2 separate regions of the Homo sapiens genome follow, and region 1 is linked to region 2. The links come from fine-mapping of genetic effects on gene expression. Tissue or cell type: whole blood. Region 2 holds a variant in brackets; the other region holds the start of a gene. All regions are shown on one strand. Distances are from middle to middle.

Evidence for each region. PIP is the estimated chance that this variant, and not a neighbour inherited with it, causes the effect.
Region 1: CRYBG1 starts here. The variant in region 2 is fine-mapped to the expression of CRYBG1 in whole blood (TOPMed, PIP 0.96).

The regions. Positions count from the first base shown.
Region 1 is chr6:106,356,075-106,364,182 of GRCh38, reverse strand. It overlaps CRYBG1 (crystallin beta-gamma domain containing 1), which reads right to left and starts at 3,466. Exons shown (of 22, transcript NM_001371242.2): 1 at 3,102-3,466. The coding sequence starts at 3,274. RefSeq lists silencers at 3,356-3,435, 3,456-3,665 and an enhancer at 2,594-3,460.
Region 2 is chr6:106,543,830-106,551,937 of GRCh38, reverse strand. It overlaps CRYBG1 (crystallin beta-gamma domain containing 1), which reads right to left. Exons shown (of 22, transcript NM_001371242.2): 12 at 7,241-7,367; 13 at 7,005-7,150; 14 at 1-86. Among named protein-coding and RNA genes, the nearest start is that of RTN4IP1, 82 kb to the left of the region's middle. The variant G/A (reference allele first, on the strand shown) is at 3,441.

The DNA.
Region 1 (8,108 bases), 190 kb after region 2:
GCTAATTTTTTTGTACTTTTAGTAAAGATGAGGTTTCACTATGTTGGCCAAGCTGGTCTCAAACTCCTGACCTCAGGTGATCCACCTGCTTTGGCCTCCCAAAGTACTGGGATTAGAGGCGTGAGTGACCGCACCCGGCTGGACTGGTAAACTTTTCTAGGAAAAGATCTTCCTAGAGTTGGTTTTCCCCTATCCAAACCTATCTTTTCCATTTCTTCCATTAGACCTTTGCTTTGATGATGATGATGATGATGATGATGACCAGGATGCTTTTGCATTTACTGAGTTTCTACTTTGTGCTCAGAAGTGTGTTAAGGTTTTTGCACTTAATAACATAAACTTTCATTTAATATTCATGACAACCCTACAGAGTCAGCATCCTATTGTCTCCATATTACAGATGAGGAAATTGAGATTTTAAGAGGTGAAATAACTTGCCCAAGGTCACAAAGCTAGTAGATAAATTCATTTTTTTCTGACCTAAACACCCATAATATTAATCAAATAAGCAAATATGGGTGGCTACCTGACTGTCCCCTCCTTATTTAGAGACAAAAACCACAGTGAGTGCTGCACATTCCAGCCAAATTCCATCACTTCCAAGTCCTGGACAGAAATGAAGGGATATGGTCAGGAGGCTTAAGAGAGCCACACTGGGCAAACTGGCTTGAAATCTAAGGGTGCTTTTGCCACTCTCTTTAAACCAGAAAGAAGTACACTCTCTTAGAAGTAAATGAAATATTTATAAAGATGATCTAACTAGAAAAACATCCCAAAGACAGACTAGTACGTTTAGTTTTTCAGAACATTTATTAATACGAAGTTCATCACGGTTCTGAAGGAAAAAATGAAGTGTTTCAAGACTGCACTAAAATATAAAAAAACTCAAGGAGAGAAGCAAATCTCCTATTTTAATTTTTTTTTTTTTTTTTTTTTTTTGAGACGGAGTTTCGCTCTGTCGCCCAGGCTGGAGTGCAGTGGCGCGATCTCGACTCACTGCAAGCTCCGCCTCCCGGGTTCACGCCATTCTCCTGCCTCAGCCTCCCGTGTAGCTGGGACTACAGGCGCGCGCCACCATGCCCGGCTAATTTTTGTATTTTTAGTAGAGACGGGGTTTCACCGTGTTAGCCAGGATGGTCTCGATCTCCTGACCTCGTGATCCGCCCGTCTCGGCCTCCCAAAGTGCTGGGATTACAGGCGTGAGCCACCGCGCCCGGCCTCCTATTTTAAATTTTATACTAAAATGTATTTACATTTGAATAAATTACCTATAGCTGTGTATTATTATGTTTTGATAGACAGTAAATGATAAGACTAGATCTTAAAAGGAAAACCACGATGGAAATGTTTAAAATATTTACTGAGGTAATAGAAAAGAACTTCAATGTTGGGTACATTAAATACTGTATTTTGTTAGAAAGTATAATCTATAATTAGGCACAGTAAACGTTTGAATAGGTAATATATTTCTACTACAACTGATTACCAATGTGGATGATAAAATATGAGAGAAAAATAAAATGACTTCTTTCTTAGGTTTCCTACCCTTACCCACTCACACCTAGACCTCCCCGCTGCAACCACTTGCGCTTCTCAGGAAGTGCCACGCTCTTCTAAGTGCTGGTGATGTGCACAGTGCAGCCCCTGCCTGGAACTCGCTGCTCCTCCCTGTTTCTGCCTAAGCCACTTCACCTATCCTCCTCCAGGAAGCCTCCCTGATCCCCTCCTGTGTGCTGGCATCTATCATTGCATTTTTTGGTATCCACAAGAGACTAACAATTCTTTGATGACACAATTATTCCTGTCTCTCATTGTTTTTTATATCGCAGTACATGGCACTTAGCTAAGGTACTCAATACAATAAGTGAATGAAAATAGATCGTAAAATTGACTTTTTTTACAAATAAAAGGAGAGGCCGGGCGCGGTGGCTCATGCCTGTAATCCCAGCACTTTGGGAGGCCGAGGCGGGCGGATCATGAGGTCAGGAGATCGAGACCATCCTGTCTAACACGGTGAAACCCCGTTTCTACTAAAAATACAAAAAATTAGCCGGGCGTGGTGGCGGGCGCCTGTGGTCCCAGCTACTCGGGGGCTGAGGCAGGAGAATGGCGTGAACCCGGGAGGTGGAGCTTGCAGTGAGCCGGGATTGGGCCAGTGCACTCCAGCCTGGGTGACAGAGCAAGACTCCGTCTCAGAAAAAAAAAAAAAAAAAGAAAGAAAGAAATAAAAGGAAAACCATGTCTAAAATGCAAATTTTGCACAATTTTATTCTGGCCCTCATAGGGTGTATTTTAAAAACACATTTGGAAGGATTTACTGGACATTGTCAATTGTCCATCACTATAAATATTTCACACCTCTGAGCCATGTAAATACGCTGTTACTTCAAATTGATTATTATTCAACGAATGCATAAACTCTGATGCTATAGTTGAATAATTATACATATAGAATAAAACCACTTCAAAACCATGATAAAAATCAAAAAGCACAATGGTAACTACAGTTTTGATAACTAGGTGCTCTCTAGCTCTGCCACTGGCTCCAATGGGGAGAAGCCATTTATCCTTTGGTCTCAGTTCCTCCACCCATGAAATGGGGGTAACCATTCCTGCCACTTCCTCCTCCCTTCGTATGTTGCGAGGAGAATGGGGGTATAACATCTGTAAGAGCACAGATCTTACAGATATTCACAATAAAGAGCTTTACAATAAAGACACTAGCTCAAAAGCAGTGCCTAACCCCAAAGCAGAGTTCCCGCCATCATTTAGGACGGTAACAACCCTCACTCCCCGCCGCTCTGGTTAGCAGGCTGATGCGGGAGGCTCCTGCATGAAAACTTTGCAGTCATACTAAAGGCCACATGCGTGGGCACAAGTTCCTCTCGCCGGTGCTTGGTCTGAACCAAAAGCCGCGAGGAACCTCGTCAACCCCAGCGGCTACGATCGCTCCCCTCCGGACCCGGGTACCCTCCTGCGGACTGAAACAGACCCCGGGGCTTTCCCCTCCTCCAAGTGGGGTCAGGAGTCCAAGGGCTAGCGCAGCAGGAGAAGGAGGAGGAGGAGGAGGTGGGACTGGAGGGCTCGGGCGAGGAGCTCACCTGGCCTCTCCGGCAGGCGCCGGGAGCGGGTGCGGAACGAACACCCCACAGTCAGGCGGCGCCGGCTGCTGCTTCTTTTTGGAGCGCCAGAGGTGGAAGGTGGTGTGCTTCTTAGGGGGCCTGCACGGGCTGGGCTCCCCGGGGTCGCCCTGGGCTGGCGGGGACAGCGGCATCGTCTTGTCCTCCTCCCGCTCCGACTGCCGGGACGCGGTCCTCTCTGCCGCCCGGGCCCTATGGAAGAACACACCTGAGCGCCAGCTCGCCCGCCTTTCTCAGCGCGCCGTGGGACCCCGCCCCCTCGTCGCGGATGCGGGGGGACGGCCGCGGGTTGCAGAACCAGCACCCAGCGCAGCGCGAGCAGCACTGCAGCCCGAGCTGTTGGGGCGGAGGCGGGGACCCAGCCGCGGAAGAGCGCCCCCGCGCGGCGCGGGCGGCAAGGGGCGCTAGCCCAGGTGAGGCGCTCGCGCCGGGAGCCCCAGGTGAGGCAGACACGCCCCGGCTCCCCACCCCGGGGGCGCGCGGCGGCCGTGGGACAGCGACACCTACTGGATGCTCTGGGCACCGCGACTCCCGACACTGCATCCCAGGCTCTAAGATGGGACCCAGAGCCGGGTCGGGCTTCCACAGCGCCTGGGGTGCAGCGGCCATTGTCGCCTGCGGAGTTGTTGGCCGCTCTTGGCCTGTGACAGGCTGGCAGGGTGAGTCGCTGCTTAGCCACGAGCCCCGCCTGGAGAAGGATGGGAGAGGCACATCCCGGGGCTGGGCCGCCCAGCAATTAGGACTCTTCCACTCTGATCTCTGGGTGGCTTGGGCAATGTCATGTGCTGGTGGCTTCTGTTCCTGTTCGTGAACACGGGTGGCAACTCCGCCAACTCGTCTCCTCTCTCAAGAGTCTGAATAATTAATTTGTACTCACATCTCATAAAACACAAAAGGATTAAAAAAATTAAAAACGCCAGAAGGGAATTAGGCATATTCCCCAATTCCCCAAGAGCTTAATAGATCCCTCGCAGTAAATTAAATGCCAGTCCCACAAGGTATTTACATCATCTGCATTACTGTTGATGACTTTCTTGTCTTAACTTCACAGTCGTGGCTAAATAGCAAAGGAAATTAATACTTAAGCAAAGTAAGTAAACGAACAATTATTTTGGGCATCATTAGAGCAAAGAAAGTGCAAGAACTAAGCACTACTTAAAAATTCAATGCAGTACAAGATCCTCTTTCACGGTAATGTCTTTATTTTCCTCTTTGAAAACACAACTCATTCATTCGTTTATTCACTCATTCAAGGAACATTCATTTTTATTTGTTTTTATTTACATTTTTATCAAGATGTAATTTATAGACAGTAAAATGCACAAATCATAAGGGTAAAACTCAAATTTTTACATATTTATGTGGTTGGGGTGTGAAAAGTTTTTTAATGGAGAGTTGACATTGTCCTAGAAAATTCTTCCGTATGTGGCTTTTAAATGTATGATTATAGGCCAGGAGCGGTGGCTCACGCCTGTAATCCCAGCACTTTGGGAAGCCGAGGCAGGCAGATCACTTGAAGTCAGGAGTTTGAGACCAGCCTGGCCAACATGGTGAAACCCCTTCTCTACTAAAAATACAAAAAAAAAATTAGCTGGGCGTGGTGGTGGAGGTGCGCCTGTAATCCCAGGTACTCGGGAGGCCGAGACATGAGAATCGCTTGAACCCAGGAGGCAGAGGTTGCAGTGAGCCGAGATGGCGCCACTGCACTCCAGCCTGAGCAACAGGATGAGACTATGTCTCAAATAATAATAATAGGTAAATATATATGATTATAAAAATATAGAATACTTTCAAAACTTTAAAAATCTCCCTACTGTCCTCTTCCAGTACATTACCCCTCCCACCTGTAAAAGTTAACCATTATTTCATCCTCTTTTGCTGGAGATTAATTTGACCTTTTCTGGAATTTCATTTTAGTGGAAAATCACAATATGTACTCTGTTTCTGGTTTGCTTTGCTCAATATTAGTCGGTGAAAATCATCTATATTGTTGCTTATATTGTAGCAGTTTTTTGTCTTGTTTTGTTTGAGACAGGGTCTCACTCTGTCACTCAGGTAGGAGTACACTGTTACCATCACCTCTCACTGCACTCACTGCAGCCTTGACCACCTGAGCACAAGTGATCGTCCCACCTCAGCCTCCTGAGCAGCCAGGACTACAGGCACACACCACAGGACCGGGCTTTTTTTTTTTTTTTGGAGGGGGTACATTTGTAGAGACTGGGTTTTTCCATGTTGCCTAGGCTGGTCTCGAACTCCTGAGCTCAAGTGACTTGTCCGCCTCAGCCTCCCACCAAAGTGTTGAGATTACAGGGGTGAGCCCCTGCACCTGACCCATAGCAGTTTTTCATTTAAAAAAATTATTGTATACTGTTCCATGATATGAATATGCCACAATTCATTTATCCATTATTGTGGATGGACATTAGGTTGTTTCCAGTTTGGGGCTATTATGAATAAAATTGATATGAACCTTCTGAGATGTACACATTCATTTCTGTTGGATACTTATACCCGGAAGTTCAATCGTTGGGTAATACAATATGCATATGTTCAGCTTTAGTGAATTCTGCCAAAAAAGTTTCCCATTTATATTCTTTCTAGCATGTTTGAAATTTCCAGTTTTTCAATATCTTCATCAACACTTGATATTAACAATCCTTTTCATTGTGGCCATTCTGATGGGGATGTGGTGGTATCACATTGCAGTTTTAATTTATATTTCCTCAAGAAACAGTTATTGAACTTATTGAGTACTGTACTAATTATGTGCCAGGCCCTGACTTGGGGGAGGAGGCAATGACAGATGCATAGATTATATCATATATATATATATATATATATATATATATATATATATATATATATAAAATCATCTGATATATATATCATGTGATATACATATATATGTACACAAACACACATCAAAGGCTAAAAGAATCAGTGGTGGTATGTACAAGGTATTAGGGGAGTTTAGAAAAGTTACTAACTTAGCGTGGTAGTTTGGAAGGGAGGAAGGGGAGTGGTCAGTAAAGATTTACTATGAAGATGGCCCTTGGATTGAACCTTAAAGGGCAAAGGGAACAGTAAGAAAAGGCAAAGAAAAGGGAAAGGGAAGAAGGGAAAAGAGAAGAAAAGGGGGAAAAGGGACAAGAAGAAATCTTTATGCACACTCAAAAATATTTCTACGTTCAGTAACTTAGTCTTTCATTCCTGGCTTTTCCAAGCAGAATTTTTCACTCCACCCCTCCTTTGTGCCACCAGTGAATCAGAAACATATTTTTGTTATCACACCTTTCAGGTTGCATCAAACTGGTTTACATTTCTATATCTCCTATTAGCCTCAGAGAAACTTAAGAACATTTCTCATTTATTCTTATATTTTCCAGACGCAAATGTCCAGTAAGTAAAGTAAGTAATCAAATGAATTGGTGTACTCACTCAGTTGGACACCTAGGATGTTTCAGACAGGTCTTTTTTTCTCTTTTTTTTTTTAAGAGATGGGGTCTCTCTATGTTGCCCAGGCTGATCTTGAACTCCTGAGCTCAAGTGATCCTCCTGCCTCAGCCTCCCAAAGTGCTGGGATTACAGGCATGAGCCACCATGCCTGGTCTCAGACAGATTTTTTAAATTGTACACTTCATAAGAAAAAATCTTACAAGTCTCTTTTTCTCAATTATGTCCTCAATGACTAGCACAGCGTATGGCGCAGTGTAGGCACTCAACATGTATTTGTTATAAGAGTTAAGAAAGTAGAACTCTGCATAGAAGGATAAGACACAGTACCTGAGAGTAATGTAGTGGGAGAGACAGATACTTAAGAAAACATGAATAGTGAAACTTGGTAAGTGTCCTAACCAATGTGGGTCAGTTGTTGTTTTTCAGTCACTGCAAGAACGAATCCACTCAGACTTATTTAGGCAGTAAATTAACCTACCACGGGATTTTAGGTGGCCCATAGAATATTCGACAGAGCCAAACAGCAAGACTGAAGCCCAAGCATCCTCAACCACTCCAGGTAGCTGTTTTGACAAACACCACTCTTACCATCTCTCAGCACTATGGGCTACATGACAGCCACTCTGCCACTGGCCACCCCAAGGATCAAAGGCCTCTTCACACCCATCTTACCAGAAGATTAATTTCCTGCCTCACACCCATTACCAGCGCATGTATTGCTCACTTCAAGCAAAAAAGTTCCCTGCAGGTACATCTGATTAGAAGAGCCTAAGTTATTTAACTGTTTCCTAGCTACAAGGGAAATTTGGGATCTGGGGCTTCTACCTCAGAGAAATGGAATTCATGTGGCTAAAATTTGCCAAACATAATGGAGGTATTCAAAATAGGCAAGGCAGCCAAAAGTGTGAACAGTGGTGACTGCTGGAGGAATGGGCAAAGGGCTACGGGAACACAGAAGAAATGACTAACTCTTCTGATTGGCTCAAGGAAGTCATCAGCAGGGAGGTGACAGGTTTATGAGCTTAACTAATGCATAAGAATTTGCTAGATGAAGAAGAGAGGGTGGACAGTCCAGGAAGAGTAAACAACATGGGCTGAGGCCCAGGCTTGTGAAAGGACATGCATTGCTGGTGAGGAATAATCAGAAGCTCAGTGATGCTGGAGAAGAGAGGGATGGGGTGGGGCAAAGTGGCAGGAAGTGATTCTGGTAAAATCAGGTATAAATCATGCATAGATGATATATATCAAAGACTAAAAGAATCAGTGGAGATATGTACAAGGCTTTATGGGGGTTTAGAAAAATTACTAACTTAGTCTGTAGTTTGGAAACGAGGAAGGGGAGTGGTCAGTAAAGATTTACTGGATTGCTAAGCACTTGGTAAGTCATGCTTTTAAGGAGTTTGGACTCAGTTTTGTAGGCACCAGGGACCCAGCTTACATTATTAAGTAGAGGAGTGACACGAACAAACTTGGGTTTTATAAAAAGTACCCTGGATGGAGTGAACTAGG
Region 2 (8,108 bases):
CTCCCCAGTCCTCAAAACTGGTATAAAATCCTTTATCCAGTATATACTGTTCTCCTGTGAAGTCAGGATTTTCATAGGCTACCCATCTAAGAAACAAAAGCAATCACTTGTTGGAGTTCATATTTTACATATAAAACGATCACATATTTGGATATCTATGTATCATACAGAAACTTTCATTTGTTTTGCCAATTGAAATTTTAATTTTTCTGATTCTCCATTAACCTTTAGAAGCAGATGGGTTTGTCTATAGGACAAATCAGAATGGTAAGCCAGCAGAGAAGAGGGAACATTTATACACTGCTGGTGGGAATGTAAATTAGTTTAGCTGCTGTGGAAAGCAGTTTGAAGATTTCTCAAAGAACTAAAGATAGAACTAGTATTCAACCCAGCAATCCCATTACTGGGATATACCCAGGGGAAAACGAATTATTCTACCAAAAAGATACTTGCACGTGTCTTGTTTACTGCCACACTATTCACAATATCAAGATGTGGAATCAACCTAGGTGTTCATTGATCAATGGTGGATTGGATAGAGAAAATGTGGTACATATAAACCATGGAATACTATACAGCCATAAAAAAGAATGAAATCAAGTCCTTTGCAGCAACTTGGATGCAACTGGAGGTCACTATCCTAAGCGAATTAACACAAACAGAAAATCAAATACCAAATATTTATGAGCAAGAACATATACTTATGAGCATGTTCTTGCCCATAAGTGGGAGCTAAACATTGGTCATGCATGGACATAAAGAAGAAAAAAAAATAGGCCCTGGGGACTACAAAAGGGGCCAGGAGGGAGGGGGGTTTGAAAAACTACCTGTTGCATGCTATGCTCAGGTTGACGGGTTCAACCGTACCCCAAACTTCAGGAAATCATGCAATATACCCATGTAACAAACCTGCACATGTACCCCCTGAATCTAAAATAAGAGTTGAAAAAAAACTTAATGCAAAAGAAATGGTAAGCGTAAGGGTATCTTGACATGAACTTTTTGGCGTTCTCGCTTATCAAATACTATTTCTTGAGAAAGCTACAAAGGCAATACTTCTCTGTGCTTTTTTTTTTCTAATTGTATTCTAAGGAAACAAAACAAACAGGACTTTCAAGAAGAACCTAGTTCTTTTAATAAGCAATCAATAAGTCCTTTCATTCTCAACCTTAAAATATTTTTGCAGAAAGATCTTAGGAAGCTGTGTCTATTACACAACAAACCACACTGAAAAAGAAGTTAACAGAAGAAATGCTTTTAAAAATGCAGAACAGAACTAAAATATTGTTTCCAACAGTGTTTCCAACATCACATAAATATGTAAAAATTAAATAAACAAAATTGAGCAAACTCATAGAAATACTAAAAATAAATCTCTTTTGGAATGTTTTTTTCTCTTTTAAGTGATCTACACCCAGAGGAAAATCAACAAAACCAATTTAATGATGCTATTTCCTATGCAAAGATAAAGTCTTTGAAAGGAAAAGGTTTTTCAGTTCTGTTATATTAAAGAGATACTTAATACCATTATATTGAAGACATTAAGTATCTTTTCAATTAATTCATCATTCTCATGATCCTCTCAAAGCTTAAAGGAATAATATCTATGTATGTATTATGTAGGGTGATCAGAACTTTGCAAAATGTTTCCACATCTGTTATCACATTTAATCTCCTAGGGAGGTATTGGTGTTCCCATTTTACAGATGGGAAAAACCTAAGACACAGTAAGTTAATTCATTTACCAGGTGCCAGGAACTAGACTGGCACTAGATATACAAAGATGAAAAAGACAAAATCTCTGTCCTCCAAAGCCCACAGATGGGTAAGCAGCATCACATGGAAGTATTTGTTGGTATTTGTTTTGAATGGGAAATGACTTGTCCAGGGTGACACAATCGACTATTGGCCAGAACGTGACTGAACCTACCTGTCCTGAGGCCCACCAGGCTCTCCTTGCTTTGTGACCCAACCTGCCATGTGCCCTGGAAAGTTCCCTTTCATTTACTGTTCTAGTAAACCATGCCTAAAACAGTCCACACACTTTATAATTAGAGCAGATTATGATTTTACTATCCAAAGGGCTGATTTAAACAAAAACTCAAGTACAGTAATTACTAGAATATGAACAGCCATCAAGGAAAAAAAGAACACTGCCAAAATCTCCAGTGAGAAGTAGCTAATAACAGCCAACATCTGTGCACTCACTCCCAGCCATCCAAATGGAGAAGCTGCTATATGCACCACTCAGTCTTTCAGGAAATACAGCCCCCTACCACCCCCCATCCCCCGATTTCAGAACCTCACTAGCAATTTTTAAAACCTGTTCTTTTTTATTTTTATTTATTTTTTATTTTTTTTAGTAGAGTCAGGATTTTACCATGTTGGCCAGGCTGGTCTCAAACTCCTGACTTCAAGTGATCCACCCACCTCAGCCTCCTAAAGTGCTAGGATTACAGGCGTGAGCACTGTTCCCGGCCTAAAAACCTATCCTTTATCACTGAGAGGTGAGGAGATAGGAGACCTGGCTCCACCTGTGGCCATGACATTAACTTTCAGATAACTTTGAAGAACTCACTTAACCTTTGTGAAAGTTTGTATTTTCAAGTGTAAGTAGGAGAGTGGGCCAAGGTCCCCGGGCTGACCAGGTGATGCTGTACAGCACACGGGTACCCGCATGTGCTGCCTCTGCCCACAGGGCCTCAGGCTTTACCCCCAGCATGAAAGGAAGCAACAGTAAAGCCAGAGCAGGGAGCACTGCTATGTGGGAGGAGTGTCTGCACATCAAGAAAATCTACATGACTGGATTAAGAAAATGTGGCACATATACACCATGGAATACTATGCAGCCATAAAAAATGATGAGTTCATGTCCTTTGTAGGGACATGGATGAAACTGGAAACCATCATTCTCAGCAAACGATCGCAAGGACAAAAAACCAAACACCGCATGTTCTCACTCATAGGTGGGAATTGAACAATGAGAACACATGGACACAGGAAGGGGAACATCACACACCGGGGACTGTTGTGGGGTGGGGGGAGGGGGGAGGGATAGCATTAGGAGATATACCTAATGCTAGATGACGAGTTAATGGGTGCAGCACACCAACATGGCACATGTATACATATGTAACTAACCTGCACGTTGTGCACATGTACCCTAAAACTTAAAGTATAATAATAATAAAATTTAAAAAAAAAGAAAATCTACGTTACAAACACTAGGACTTTAAAAAAACAACGAACAATTAAAGAAGTAGAGCCACATCAAAAAAAGGGTTCTCACCAGGGCTCCGAGTCTGTAACAAGTAGAGAGATAAGAGGGTTAAAGGCCTTTCTGTTTGACTTCAAGGTTTGGAGGGAAAAAAGACAGTGAGGTGGGAGGCTGAATGCCAAGGAGAGAGGACAGCCCTGGAAGCAGCTTTAGCCAGTACTCT[G/A]TTCTTTTTACTAACAAGTATGGGTACTGTATTTTCCTATGAAACTAAACTACTTGTAAGTAAATACCCAACACCCAGCTAAGCCTATCTCTAATTCACTGAAGCTGAAGCTGGAAAACAATTTATTAAGATGTTACTTGAACTGACAGTAGTGTTGTTTTCCCTCCAAGATACCTGATGAATCACCCATGAATGGGGGGAGTGGGGGAGGGGAGAAGCCGCAAAACCCAGATCTGAGATTCTCTGCTCTATGATCCGAGAGTCTACTTACAACTTACACTTGGGGCTCTTAAGAAAATCCCTCCCTGTCCTTGTCCAGATGTATTCTGTACACATGAATCAACACTCCTCTGTTTAAAGACTGGTGGGGAGACGGGGGAAAGGCATGTACACAAGTACTAGCAGGTCCCAGCCTGGTGGAATAATTGCTCAGAAGATAAGGGCAGCAGGGTAAACCTGCCCTTCCGTGGAAGGCCAAAGGAAAAAGAATTTAAAACAACAACACTTTTCGTTTTCATCTGAATACCAGAAATATTTCATTTTGCTCCTAGTTTTAAAAAACTAGCCCAGTTTCCACTATTTGAGCAAGAATATAGCATAGAACTAGAAACTGATAAGCAGGGAGTTTCTTTCGACATTTCCAGTAAGAATCAAATGCAGTTCCTAAAAACCTCAGTTGCTGGTTTCATGGGCATCCTTCCTGAAGGCTGTTCTCTGTTTCAGGACTAATGATGAGTTTACTGCCCAGGGGATGTATTACCCATGTGATGGTGAGCCTCCTGGGAGATACTTTCATGGAACAAGAACTTCAGAAGAGTTTTTTTCTGACAATGCATGCCATAATAAGAAATAAAGAACCAAGCTAAAATACTTAATTGCCAATAAAAATAAAGCCATTAAAATACAATAATTTTCCTTTGAAACTATTTAAAGTGAATAGGTAGTCCTCCTCCATCATCTTGGCTCATCTCAGCCTTCCTATCCTATCCCACAGGCCTAACTCCAATGCCACCTCCTCCACAAAGTCTTCCTTCCCTGTGTCCAGACTGGAAATTAATCTCTCTCTGCTGTGGATTCCCAGAGCATTTAATCTGTACCTCTTTTGTAGCAATAATTATGTTTTACATAAATACCGTAACTTCTTTGAGGACATAATACAATGCTTTGCACATAACAGACCGCAATAAATACTTGTCAAATGACAAATCGAACAAAATATGAGGAAGCACCTGGCCCTGGTAAATACAAAAGCCCTTCCATATGCAAAGAATTTCAAAGGAAGTGGTGTGTGTGTGTGTGTGTGTGTGTGTCCACGTATGTGTACGTAGCTCCCTTCAACTTCCCCCTTCTACCAAAACTTAACTGCTACAGCCAGAAAAAAGAAGCTTAAGCCAGGAAATGCAATTAGAAATGACTAAAAATAGAAACATATAATAGCAGCACTTTATAAAGGGAACTGATTTCAAGTAAGCAAGGCCTGGGTTAAAAAGGAAAGGAGATTGGCTCAAGGCACAATAATTCTACCTGTGTTAATAGCATCATCTACAAAATACCTAAGGGAATTCATTCTACCCAGCATCCTTTTGCTTCCTCTGCCAGGGTGGATGACTAGGCTCTGACTAATAGAACCAACACAACTGGTGAGTATCAAAATGTACAACTGTTTCACCAGACTAAGTTGGTCACTATGTTTTCCTCCTAAATAATTAGCTTTAAAGACAATCTAAAATACTGCAGAGCCCCAGCAACATTTCAGATAACTTGTACCTTATATTTCAGATGACTTCTGGCTTTTGCAAACAGGCTACTGATTCTAAAATGTTAGGGCTCCAGAATAGGACCCAAGAGTAGGCATTTCCTGCTGAGAATGGAATACCCGGAAATCACTGATACTCTGCCAAAATGGCACCACATGCAACGGCCTAGACAAGAACTTGTTGAACAAGGTTTTTTTTACTCTATTTACTAAGAGTAAAAGTTAAGCATGTTCATCAACTTTTAGTACATTGTACACACTTTTCAAATATCCAGGGCTATTGTGGGAGGCCCCATGAGATACAATGGGGTTGAGGCTAGGATGATTCAAATAGTCTATGTCACTATGACAACAAAAACCTAACACCAAACACTTTCAGCATAACCAATGTCACATTATTTCATGTAACTATTTGAGAATACTCTCACTTATAACAAATTAGAATAGACATTAGCCTGGATTACAAGAATAATTATGTAACTCCCTATAACAGCCATCTGCTGTTTTTGCCCATCTGGCATCTATCTCCCCACTCTTTCTGATGTCCCTGGGGAACCACCAACCCCATTCATATCTAAGTGGCTCCTATGGGATAGACCCTACATCTCAGCTCTGGAGATGGACACGTAGCCCAGACATGGCCGTCTCTGTGGCTACAGTGATTGGTTCAGGCATGTGCACATGACCCAAGCCTAGGAAAGCAAAGTCAAACATGGAACTTGTGAGAAAGAGAAGCTCTTTCCACTGCAAGAAATGAGCTGGGGCCAGGCATGGTGGCTCATGCCTGTAATCCCAGCACTTTGGGAGGCCAAGGCGGGTGGATCACCTGAGCTCAGGAGTTTGAGACCAGCCTGGGCAACATGGCAAAAACCTGTCTCTAAAAAAAAATACAAAAATTAGCCAGGCCTGGTGGCACACATCTGTGGTCCCAACTACTTGGGAGGCTGAAGCAGGAGGATCGCTTAAGCCCAGGAGGCAGAGGTTGCAGTGAGCTGAGATTTTGCCACTGCACTCCAGCCTGGGTGGCAGAGTGAAACTCTGCCTCAAAAAAAAAGAGTTAGGAGAACAAAAGCTGAATGTGGCCACAGGCCACCAAATGCAAAAGGCCTACCTAAAGTCAAGTTAACACAGAAAAAAGCCCAGTCAAGACACAGAGACTAAGTTCTGATAGTGTTTGATCCGCTGCATCTAGGCATGCCTGAAGCAAAATCTTCTCCAGGACTTTTTAGTTACTTAAGCCAGTAAGTTCCATTTTAATCCCTTGAGCCAATTTAGCTTGGCTTGCAGTCACTTCATCCCAAAGAATCTTGACTAAACATCTTTCAATAAAAACTTGCTTCACCACTAATAAAACAGTCAACTGCTAACTCCACGTACATAGAACAATTATTTTTATGTCAAACTAATAGTGAAGAAATATACTGGAACAGGTGTAGGACCACAGGAAAATCTACTGGGACTTTGACCCAGCCTCAGGTTTATGTTAGATTACTATTATTATTATTTGATCTCCATCATTTAAAAAATTCACTATCTTTCTGTGCAGAATGACAAGGGAAACAGATCTGTAGATTTCTATCATGATACCCAAAGCCTACCCCAAACGTAAAAAGAAGAGATGGTATGAGAACGATTTTTAAAGAGAGTTAACGAAAATATCATGACAGCAACTATTAAATGACTGATTTAATGTTAAGCTGTTGAGATATTTGTGTATTGAATGCCTACTCTGTGATAGACTCTTACCAGTTTAAAACAAACCAAGGTAAAACGCATGTTTAAAATTCCAACTGGATTATTTCACTTACACTCCACTCAGTACATTAATAGACTGTGTCTTCACTCCATATCCAGTCTCCTTTAAATTAGCAACAATTCCCAATACATCAATACTGGAACCTTTGGATCCAAAGTTTTTTTCACTGTACATTATCATGTGAGCATTTGAAAAATCCTATTGAGAAAAAAAATTCAAAATTCAAAGGCTAGCCATTTATTATCCAAAGAAGACCAAGTATTAGCCATTAGCTTGTCCTTTACTTACACCTAATATAGGTCGTAAAGACTGAAGCTCTCCATTGTAACCTCCCCAGGCTTTCCAGTCCCTGTATTCTCCTTCTTCTAGCAAATACTGATGACCGGTAAATCCAGGTTTCTCATATGCAACCCAACTGCAACATAAAGAACACGAGGAGTAGTCATTTCCAGACATGTTAACATTTTTTCAAGGTACATATCAATTTCATTGAAAAATACAAATAGTTATAAAGCTAGACATGACCTTCTGCTTTATTATCATTGGAATTCTTTAAAATTTAGGAGAATAACAGAATGGCCCCAAGAAAATAACCTAAGAGACATATATCAGAGTTGTATAAAAAAGGGAAGGGGAGCGTGTGTGTGAGTGGTGTGTATGTGTGTGTGTTTAATCAGGGCTGACTCAAAAGAACCTCAGCAAGCAAAACTGGATAAACTCACTTCAGATAGTAACAAAAATATTATGAATAGTTAGCGATTTACAAGAGCAACTTTAGTGTGCACTTCTATGGGAAATGTGCAAGATCTATAAGATGCAAAAATATAAAAATCAGAAAGCGAACTATCAAACTGTTCAATAGCTTGGAGCATAATTCTAATAAGCAAGGTTGTAGATTTGATCAACTTGAACAGGCCAATGTATCAGCCTTCCTTGACAGAGTTTCGCTCTTGTTGCCCAGGCTGGAGTGCAATGGTGCGATCTTGGCTCACCGCAGCCTTTGCCTCCTGAGTTCAAGCGATTCTCCTGCCTCAGCCTCCCAAGTAGCTGGGATCACAGGCATGTGACACCACGCTCAGCTAATTTTGTATTTTTTAGTAGACATGGGGTTTCCCCATGTTGGTCAGGCTGGTCTTGAACTCCTGACCTCAGGTGA